Regions from separate parts of the Homo sapiens genome. Here all the other regions are linked to region 2. The links come from fine-mapping of genetic effects on gene expression. A gene starts in region 2. Each other region holds a variant in brackets. All regions are shown on one strand. Distances are between the middles of the regions.

What was found. PIP is the estimated chance that this variant, and not a neighbour inherited with it, causes the effect.
Region 1: its variant is the best candidate, but not a certain one, in a credible set for the expression of ABCC2 in whole blood (TOPMed, PIP 0.53).
Region 3: its variant is the best candidate, but not a certain one, in a credible set for the expression of ABCC2 in whole blood (TOPMed, PIP 0.70).

Annotation. Positions count from the first base shown.
Region 1 is chr10:99,713,842-99,716,609 of GRCh38, forward strand. COX15 (cytochrome c oxidase assembly factor COX15) reads right to left here. Exons shown (of 9, transcript NM_078470.6): 8 at 2,507-2,620; 9 at 1-877. The coding sequence ends at 746. Among named protein-coding and RNA genes, the nearest start is that of COX15, 17 kb to the right of the region's middle. The variant G/A (reference allele first, on the strand shown) is at 1,551.
Region 2 is chr10:99,781,554-99,784,321 of GRCh38, forward strand. ABCC2 (ATP binding cassette subfamily C member 2) reads left to right here and starts at 1,087. Exons shown (of 32, transcript NM_000392.5): 1 at 1,087-1,324. The coding sequence starts at 1,292. RefSeq lists an enhancer at 2,285-2,768.
Region 3 is chr10:99,820,851-99,823,618 of GRCh38, forward strand. The region is part of intron 19 of ABCC2 (ATP binding cassette subfamily C member 2); the gene reads left to right. Among named protein-coding and RNA genes, the nearest start is that of ABCC2, 40 kb to the left of the region's middle. The variant G/A (reference allele first, on the strand shown) is at 1,619.

The DNA.
Region 1 (2,768 bases), 68 kb before region 2:
GCCTGTAGTCCCAGCTACTCGGGAGGCTGAGGCATGAGAATCGCTTGAACCTGGGAAGTGGAGGTTGCAGAGTGAGCTGAGATCACGCCATTGTACTCCAGCCTGGGCAACAAGAGTGAAACTCTGTCTCAAAAAAAAAAAAAAAAATGGAACTATTTGGCGATTACCTCCTTTTCCAAGTACTTAAAAACCATTTTGCTACATATACACATTAAGCTTGTCAAAATCTGCAATTTCCCCATTTCTGAAAATCAGGATATTAGAAGACATTAGCTTTTTTTTTTTTGCTGAAGACCAGCTGGCTACTTTGGGTATGTCAATCCTATCCTTTCAATCTTCACCTAATGGAAGTGAAGTTAAGATCATAAAGAAATTCTATTTAGGCAGAATTAAGGACTCAGGAGAACATCCACGTAGAAATCATCCACGTAGAACCAAGAGCTTGCCAACACTGAAAAACCTGACACAAAGCCTGTTAAGCAGCAAATGGCAGACATTTCTTTCTCTACATTAAAACTGATTTTCAACATGAAAAGCAGATTTAAAAGGGAACATTTAGGGTAACCACACTTAATGCATTCTTGATCCAGTGACTATCTCAAAACAGGAAAAGATTTTTAAGTAAGTTGACCATTTGGAAACCACTTGGTATGTCAAGGTCATCTCGTAGAAAAGCCCAAGTTCTTATGATCTCTGAAGAGCTCTCAAAAGCAGTCACAGTCCCAGGAGGCTGGTCCTCTAAGAATCATTTTGGGACTCTTCGGAGTTCATTCATCAGCCAAAGAGCACCAGTGAGCAAAGCCAAGGAGCCTGACTGGTGAGTGGCGGCCAGAGGAGTTGGGACATACATCAGCAGCGTGCTGATGCCCAAGCCCACCTGTCACAAAGGAAAGAAGGCAATAGGAAAGGCAGTAACCCAAAGTTCACATTGAAAATGGCCAGGCGTGGATAACCACACACAAACCTCCACATCCTCCTATCAGAGCACTTAAAATACACACATTTTTAATTTCACAAGCAAATATGCTTACAATGAAAGAAATTCGAACAAAATTGATAAACCTAAAATTCCCCTTATTCTTCAATCCATCCCAGTTCCCCAGAGTAGTCACTGTTACCAGTTTCTGCATACTTGTACTTTAGTATGTTTATAGAGAAATAAATATATAGTTTTGTGCTTTTAAAAAACATATTGTTCTGTCACTTGCTTTTTTTCACTTAGCAATATACACTATGTATTGAGATCTTATTAAACTGCTGTGCAGTATCGCACAGTATGGATATACCATAGTTTTTTTTGTTTTGTTTTGTTTTGAGACAGAGTTTCACTCTGTCTGCCAGGCTGGAGTGCAATGGCATGATCTTGGCTCACTGCAACCTCCACTTCCAGGGCTCAAGCAATTCTCCTGCCTCAGCCTCCCAAGTAGCTGGGATTACAGGCGTGTGCCACCCCGCCTGGCTAATTTTTGTATTTTTTAGTAGAGACAGAGTTTCATCATGTTGGCCAGGCTGGTCTTGAACTCCTGACCTCAGGTAATCCGCCCACCTCG[G/A]CCTCCCAAAGTGCTGGGATTACAGGCGTGAGCCACTGTGCCCGGCCCATAGTTTTTTAACTATTTAGGTTGTTTCCAATTTTTCACTATCACAATTCTATGATGAATTTTCTCATACAAAAGGTCTTTGTTGCATTGGACTGTTTCTAGGACTGACACTAATAAGTTCATTTGCTGGGCCAAAGAATTACCCATTTAACTTTTAAAAGATATTGCCAGCCTGGGTGACAGAGTGAGACTCCATCTCTAAAAAAAAAAAAAAAAGATATTGCCAAATTGCCTTCTGGAAAAAACTGTACTGACTCATGCTCTCACCAGGAATATTTGAAAGTATCCATTTTCCTATGCCCATGGCAATACCTGATTATCTTTTTTTTCACTTTTTTCCAATTTGATAGGCACAAAATGGTACTTATTTTTTAAATTTGCTCCTCTCTGATTATAAGTGAAGCTGAACAGCTTTTCATGTTTACTGGCCATTAATCATTGTTTTTGTGGTAATTGTGTATTGATGTCCTTTACTTATTTTCCGGTTATTAATCTTTTAATTTATTATAAATATGGAAAATATTTTCTCCTAGTCTGTCACCTTTCCTTTTTTTTTTTTTTTTTTTTAAACAGACAGGGTCTCACTCTGTTGTCTAGGCTGGGGTGCAGCGGTGCGATCTTGACTCACTGCAGCCTCAACCTCCCTGGCTCAGGTGATCCTCCCATCTCAGCCTCCCAAGTAGTTTGGACTACAGGCACACACCAACATGCCCATCTAATTTTTGTATTTTTTTTGTAGAGATGGGGTTTTGCCATGTTGCCCAGGCTAGTCTTGAATTCCTGGCTCAAGTGATCTGCCCACCTAGGCCTCCCAAAGTGCTGGGATTACAGCCATGAGCCACTGTGCCCGGCCCCTTTTTTAACTTTGTATTGGGGATACTGTCAGAACAAAAAGAAGTGGTTTATACCTGTGTATACGCCAAAGCCAGCAGAGTCACTGCTGCCATCTTGGTCCTTCTAGGAAGGGGAATTCTCCGAGAGAGGAAGTAGAGCACTGTAATGGCAGTGACTGAAGTGATTCCCTGCAGGGAAGAAAGAGTCTATCACATTAGATAGAAGTGCCAGGTTTCTAACTCACCTTACATGTATCTCCTCTAGAACCACTCAGCAACCATGAAGTACTTTCCTGTACCAGTCACAGAGAACCTCCCTGCAGTCCCAGCCTGATCA
Region 2 (2,768 bases):
CAATTGCATTCCAATGGAGTCCTTTAGCATGTTCCTGTGTTTCTTATAATCCGGTAGTTAGATCTAGAATTTGACCAGATTTAAGGCCAATTTTTTTTAGCTAGGATACTGCATGGGTGGTTATGTTTTAGCTAGGATACCGCATGGGTGGTTCATGATATCATGAAAAAAGCATGTTCTTAAAGCAATTTAAGTGACAGTACAAAAGGTTGGGTCAGGTGGGGCACGGTAGCTCATGCCTGCAATCCCAGCCCTTTGGGAGGCCAAGGCAGAAGGATTGTTGAAGCCTGGAGTTTGAGACCAGCCTGGGCAACATAGTGAGACCCCGTCCCTACAGAAAACATTTTTTTAATTAGCTGGGCTTGTTGGCATGTGCCTGTAGTCCCAGCTACTCAGGAAGCTGAGGCAGGAAGATCGCTTGAACCCATGAGGTCAAGGCTGCAATGAATCATGATGGCAACACTGCACTCTAGCTCAGGCAACAGACCAAGACCCTGTCTCAAAAAACAAAAAACAATAACAAAAAAAGAAAAGGTTGGGTCGATGACAGTTTCTAGCGACTGATGCCACCACTCTGTTTACAGAATCACCCCTCTCCTCTGGCCCTGATGTTTTATCATGATATCATATTTACAATGCCTGGCAAAGGCTTCATTCCCATTTGGCATACTACCTCTCAGGCAAATAGAACTTTTGAAAGCCTGTATTATGTATATAACATATAGGCTCACACTGGATAAGCTATTTTATAACCTGACTTCTTCAAAGAAAGTTTACATCATGTTTAAACCATGTTTTAGATTCTATATTTTTAATTAAAAATCTAAGGAAGAAGGATATTTCACATTTCTATAAACTCTAAGATCTTGCAGCAGAAGCGAAACTGCACATTTAGGGGTGCCTGCCCCTCTACTGATGCTGCCCTTTGTGGGTCATATGTCCTTAGGAAAATGAAAGACTGTGCACTCTTGATTTGTTGGCCAGCTCTGTTGACATCTTTCAGTGGTTCCTTTTATGTATGGCCACTCCTACAGAGGCCTCTTGTACTTTGGGAACTGGTGAGTCTCCCTGTCCCTAGGGCTTTTTAGTCACATGTCCATCCACTGTTTCAATGTAACATGCATCTAGGCAAGGTTAACGATTAAATGGTTGGGATGAAAGGTCATCCTTTACGGAGAACATCAGAATGGTAGATAATTCCTGTTCCACTTTCTTTGATGAAACAAGTAAAGAAGAAACAACACAATCATATTAATAGAAGAGTCTTCGTTCCAGACGCAGTCCAGGAATCATGCTGGAGAAGTTCTGCAACTCTACTTTTTGGGTGAGAAATTACATTTATCTTCATATTGACTCTTCTCAGACTCAGAACAAGTGGTAGTTAGTTAACTTAGGGTGGTCACCAACAAGAACCAGAAATGTTAGATGTGCAATTGGTCTAAAGCTCAGGCTTTTTAGAAAGCATAATTCATAATATCTCCAGAGGATATAAGATCTGGGAAATGTAATGCAAATTATTCTCTGTCATATGTTTTTTTATATCAGACTCTTGTACTAGCTAGTCGCAAAATTGCCTTCTCTAAAGAGAAACAGGTAAAAACCTTCCAATTTAATCCGTGTGAGGAAGGAGAATTGTTGTTGCATACTTTGCTAGTAGAAGGAAGAGAAGATCCGTGACTGAGTCTTGCTGAGACATGTTGATGTTGAAATGATAATGATAAGTTCTAGAACTGGCAACTAATGATATGGACTAGAAGTTGAGTCTAGGGATGCAACTTTGGGCATCATGAGCATTGAAATAATTTTTGAACAACTAGAGTTGGGTAATATTGTTTTTAAGGAAAAGAAGAGACACCACTTAGAGGGTGAACAAGAACAGTGTAACATTACGGAGTCATAGATAGCAAAAAATTTCAAGATAGGGGCCAATCAACAGTATCAAAGGTCTAGTGGAATAGAAAACAAAAAAGGACCTTAGATTTAGTGATTTTAGTAAGGGTTTGGTGAGAAAGTATCATCTGCAAACTCCTAGCCTCAGCATCAGAATCACCTGGGGCAATAAATGTAGTTTAAGTATCTTAAGTGATTCTTCTGAATTCTAACATTTGATAACCTTATATAGAGGTGAGAGGGGCAGGGATGAGATAGCAGAGCACCTGGGCAGCACCTCGTGTCTTAGAAAGGACCTGGGTCCCAAGACCCTCGAGGCCAGGAGTGTATACCACGGCAAGGTGGATCTTCATGGGCTATAGTATCTAGACAGGCCATCTCTTGAGAATTCTTTCTGAGAACTACCTGACAAACTTTCTTGGTCAGGGCATCGCAAGCAATTCTTTAAAGAGTCTGTATAAATAATCATATAAAACAATTTTTAACTATTTATAGGAAAAGAAAAATCCACACTCATGTGACTCAGATACAAGAATTGGTGCCCACCCCCCACCCCCCAACTTCCACTTCACAAGACACTTCCATTTATCGCAGAATGCAAAGACTGCACAAAACTTGCTGGTTGGAAGCCTTCTGTCCAACAATGCTGTTGTCACTGCTGTGCTGAAACTGGCCAGGTTTTTAATGTAAGCGCTTTGGGCCATCAGAGAGCAAATGTTACAGTATGACTAAGCATTCTCCCTGCATGGCGCCTGCATGTTTGAATATCTGCCAGTGAGTTCAGTTAGTGCTAGAAACTTGAATAATTTTTTATATCCCAGGGAACTATTCTGTCCTTTAAACTGGGGAACAGTCCTTCTTCATCCTATAATTTGGCA
Region 3 (2,768 bases), 39 kb after region 2:
TCGTAAGGTGGAATGAGAGACTTGGAAAAGAAAAAGACACAGAGACAAAGTATAGAGAAAGAAATAAGGGGACCCGGGGAACCAGCGTTTAGCATATGGAGGATCCCGCCAGCCTCTGAGTTCCCTTAGTATTTATTGATCATTCGTGGGTGTTTCTCGAAGAGGGGGATGTGTCAGGGTCACAAGACAATTGTGGGGAGAGGGTCACAAGACAATTGTGGGGAGAGGGTCAGCAGACAAACACGTGAACAAAGTTCTTTGCATCATAGACAAGGTAAAGGATTAAGTGCTGTGCTTTTAGATATGCATACACATAAACATCTCAATGCTTTACAAAGCAGTATTGCTGCCTGCTTGTCCCACCTCCAGCCCTAAGGCGGTTTTTCCCTATCTCAGTAGATGGAACATACAATCGGGTTTTATACCGAGACATTCCATTGCCCAGGAACGGGCAGGAGATAGATGCCTTCCTCTTGTCTCAACTGCAAGAGGCATGCCTTCCTCTCATACTAATCCTCCTCAGCACAGACCCTTTACGGGTGTCGGGCTGGGGGACGGTCAGGTCTTTCCCTTCCCACGAGGCCATATTTCAGACTATCACATGGGGAGAAACCTTGGACAATACCTGGCTTTCCTAGGCAGAGGTCCCTGCGGCCTTCCGCAGTTTTTGTGTCCCTGGGTACTTGAGATTAGGGAGTGGTGATGACTCTTAACGAGCATGCTGCCTTCAAGCATCTGTTTAACAAAGCACATCTTGCACCACCCTTAATCCATTTAACCCTGAGTTTGACACAGCACATGTTTCAGAGAGCACGGGGTTGGGGGTAAGGTCACAGAATCTTAAGGCAGAAGAATTTTTCTTAGTACATAACAAAATGGAGTCTCCCATGTCTACTTCTTTCTACACAGACACAGTGACAATCTGATCTCTCTTGCTTTTCCCCACATTTCCCCCTTTTCTTTTCGACAAAACCGCCATCGTCATCATGGCCCGTTCTCGATGGTCGCTGTCTCTTCGGAGCTGTTGGGTACACCTGCAGACATGTGATAAGTGAATCTACTGATGGGACTGACAGTAGGTACTTCTACCAACCAATTTTGGACTGCAGGCATTAAACATCCTGGTGCTCTCCCTAGGCAAATAGGAGGATAACGATACCCAATGGAAATATTTATCATCATCCCTTCTTCCTCAGGTTTGGCAGGGCAGCGATCATCTGTGGGGCCAGGTACCCATACGCTATCATTAACATATACTTCTATAGGATTATCCATCCATGTGACTGCCCGAATTAAGGGCGGGAAAGGCACATAGGCCCAGTAGGTATAGTTAGCTGCAGCTGCTCCTGCAGGCATAGGGAGACTTACCACCGTTGATACAATCATCAAGGCTGCAAGCAGCATACTCTCTGGGGTTTGTGTCACCTTTGTGTTCTCTAGATATTTTGTAGCTAACTGCGTCAGCTTCTTTAGTTGTGCCCAAGTTGGCGGCTCTGCCTTCTTGGTGGATGGCAACTTCATCTGTTCTTCTGACGTCACCATTTTGTTCATCTTGTGAGTCAACGGTGCTCGACTGTGGTGTCTCCGTCTCCGCGGAGGTGCTTTTCTTTGCATCTCC[G/A]ATGGGTTCATTGTAGAACTTCAAATGTCTAGTGCGTATCCAAACAGGAAGCTGATTTTCTCCTGGTGAAACACAAGCAAAACCTCTCCCCCACGTTATCACCTTCCCTATTTCCCATGTCTTATTTTTATTATCTTTCCACCAAATTAGTTTTCCTTCATGTGGGCTGTTCTTTTTACCAGTAAGATGTTGTTCTGCAGAAGTAGTAGTCTGATTTCTATAAATGTTTAAAAAATTTAAAGTATAGAGTGCTAGATTAAGTTGCATCTGAGGAGTGGTACACTCCTTACTGTCTCCTGCTTCTTTTTGTTTAACTAATTGAGTTTTGAGTGTTCTATTAGTTCTTTCAACTATGGCCTGTCCTTGGGAATTATAAGGCATTCCTGTTGTATGTGAAATTTTCCACTGACTTAAGAATTTTTGGAAAGCTTTACTACAATATCCTGGTCCATTGTCAGTTTTGATTTTTTCCGGAACTCCCATTACAGCAAAACAAGACAATAAATGTTTTTTTAACATGGGAAGTACTTTCTCCTGTTTGGCAAGTTGCCCATATGAAATGTGAATAAGTATCAACTATTACATGAACATATGATAATTTTCCAAATGAAGGTACATGCGTGACATCCATTTGCCATAATGCATTAGGACACAGACCTCTGGGATTAACTCCTGCCTCTTGAGTGGGCAGGTGTAAGACTTGACACTGGGTGCAATGTTGTACGATATCTTTTGCCTGTTTCCATGTGACATCAAATTTGTTTTTTAATCCTGCTGCATTTACATGAGTCAAAGCATGAAGTTCTTGTGCTTTTATGAATGCAGATGATACCAGTAAGTCAGCTTGTTCATTTGCTTTAGTCAAAGGCCCTGGTAAATTACTGTGTGCTCGAATATGAGTAATATAAAATGGGAAATTTCTTTTTCTTACAGTTTATTGTAATAAATTGAATAGCTGGTTTAACTGATCATCCATGCTATATTTAATTAGAGCTGTCTCAACATCCCTTGTAGCCTGTACTACATATGCAGAATCTGATATAATATTGATAGGTTGGTCAAAATCTTGTAACACTGTAATGACTGCAACCAACTCTGCTCTTTGAGCCGATTGATGTGGAGTTTTGATTACTCGTTCCTTCGGCCCTGT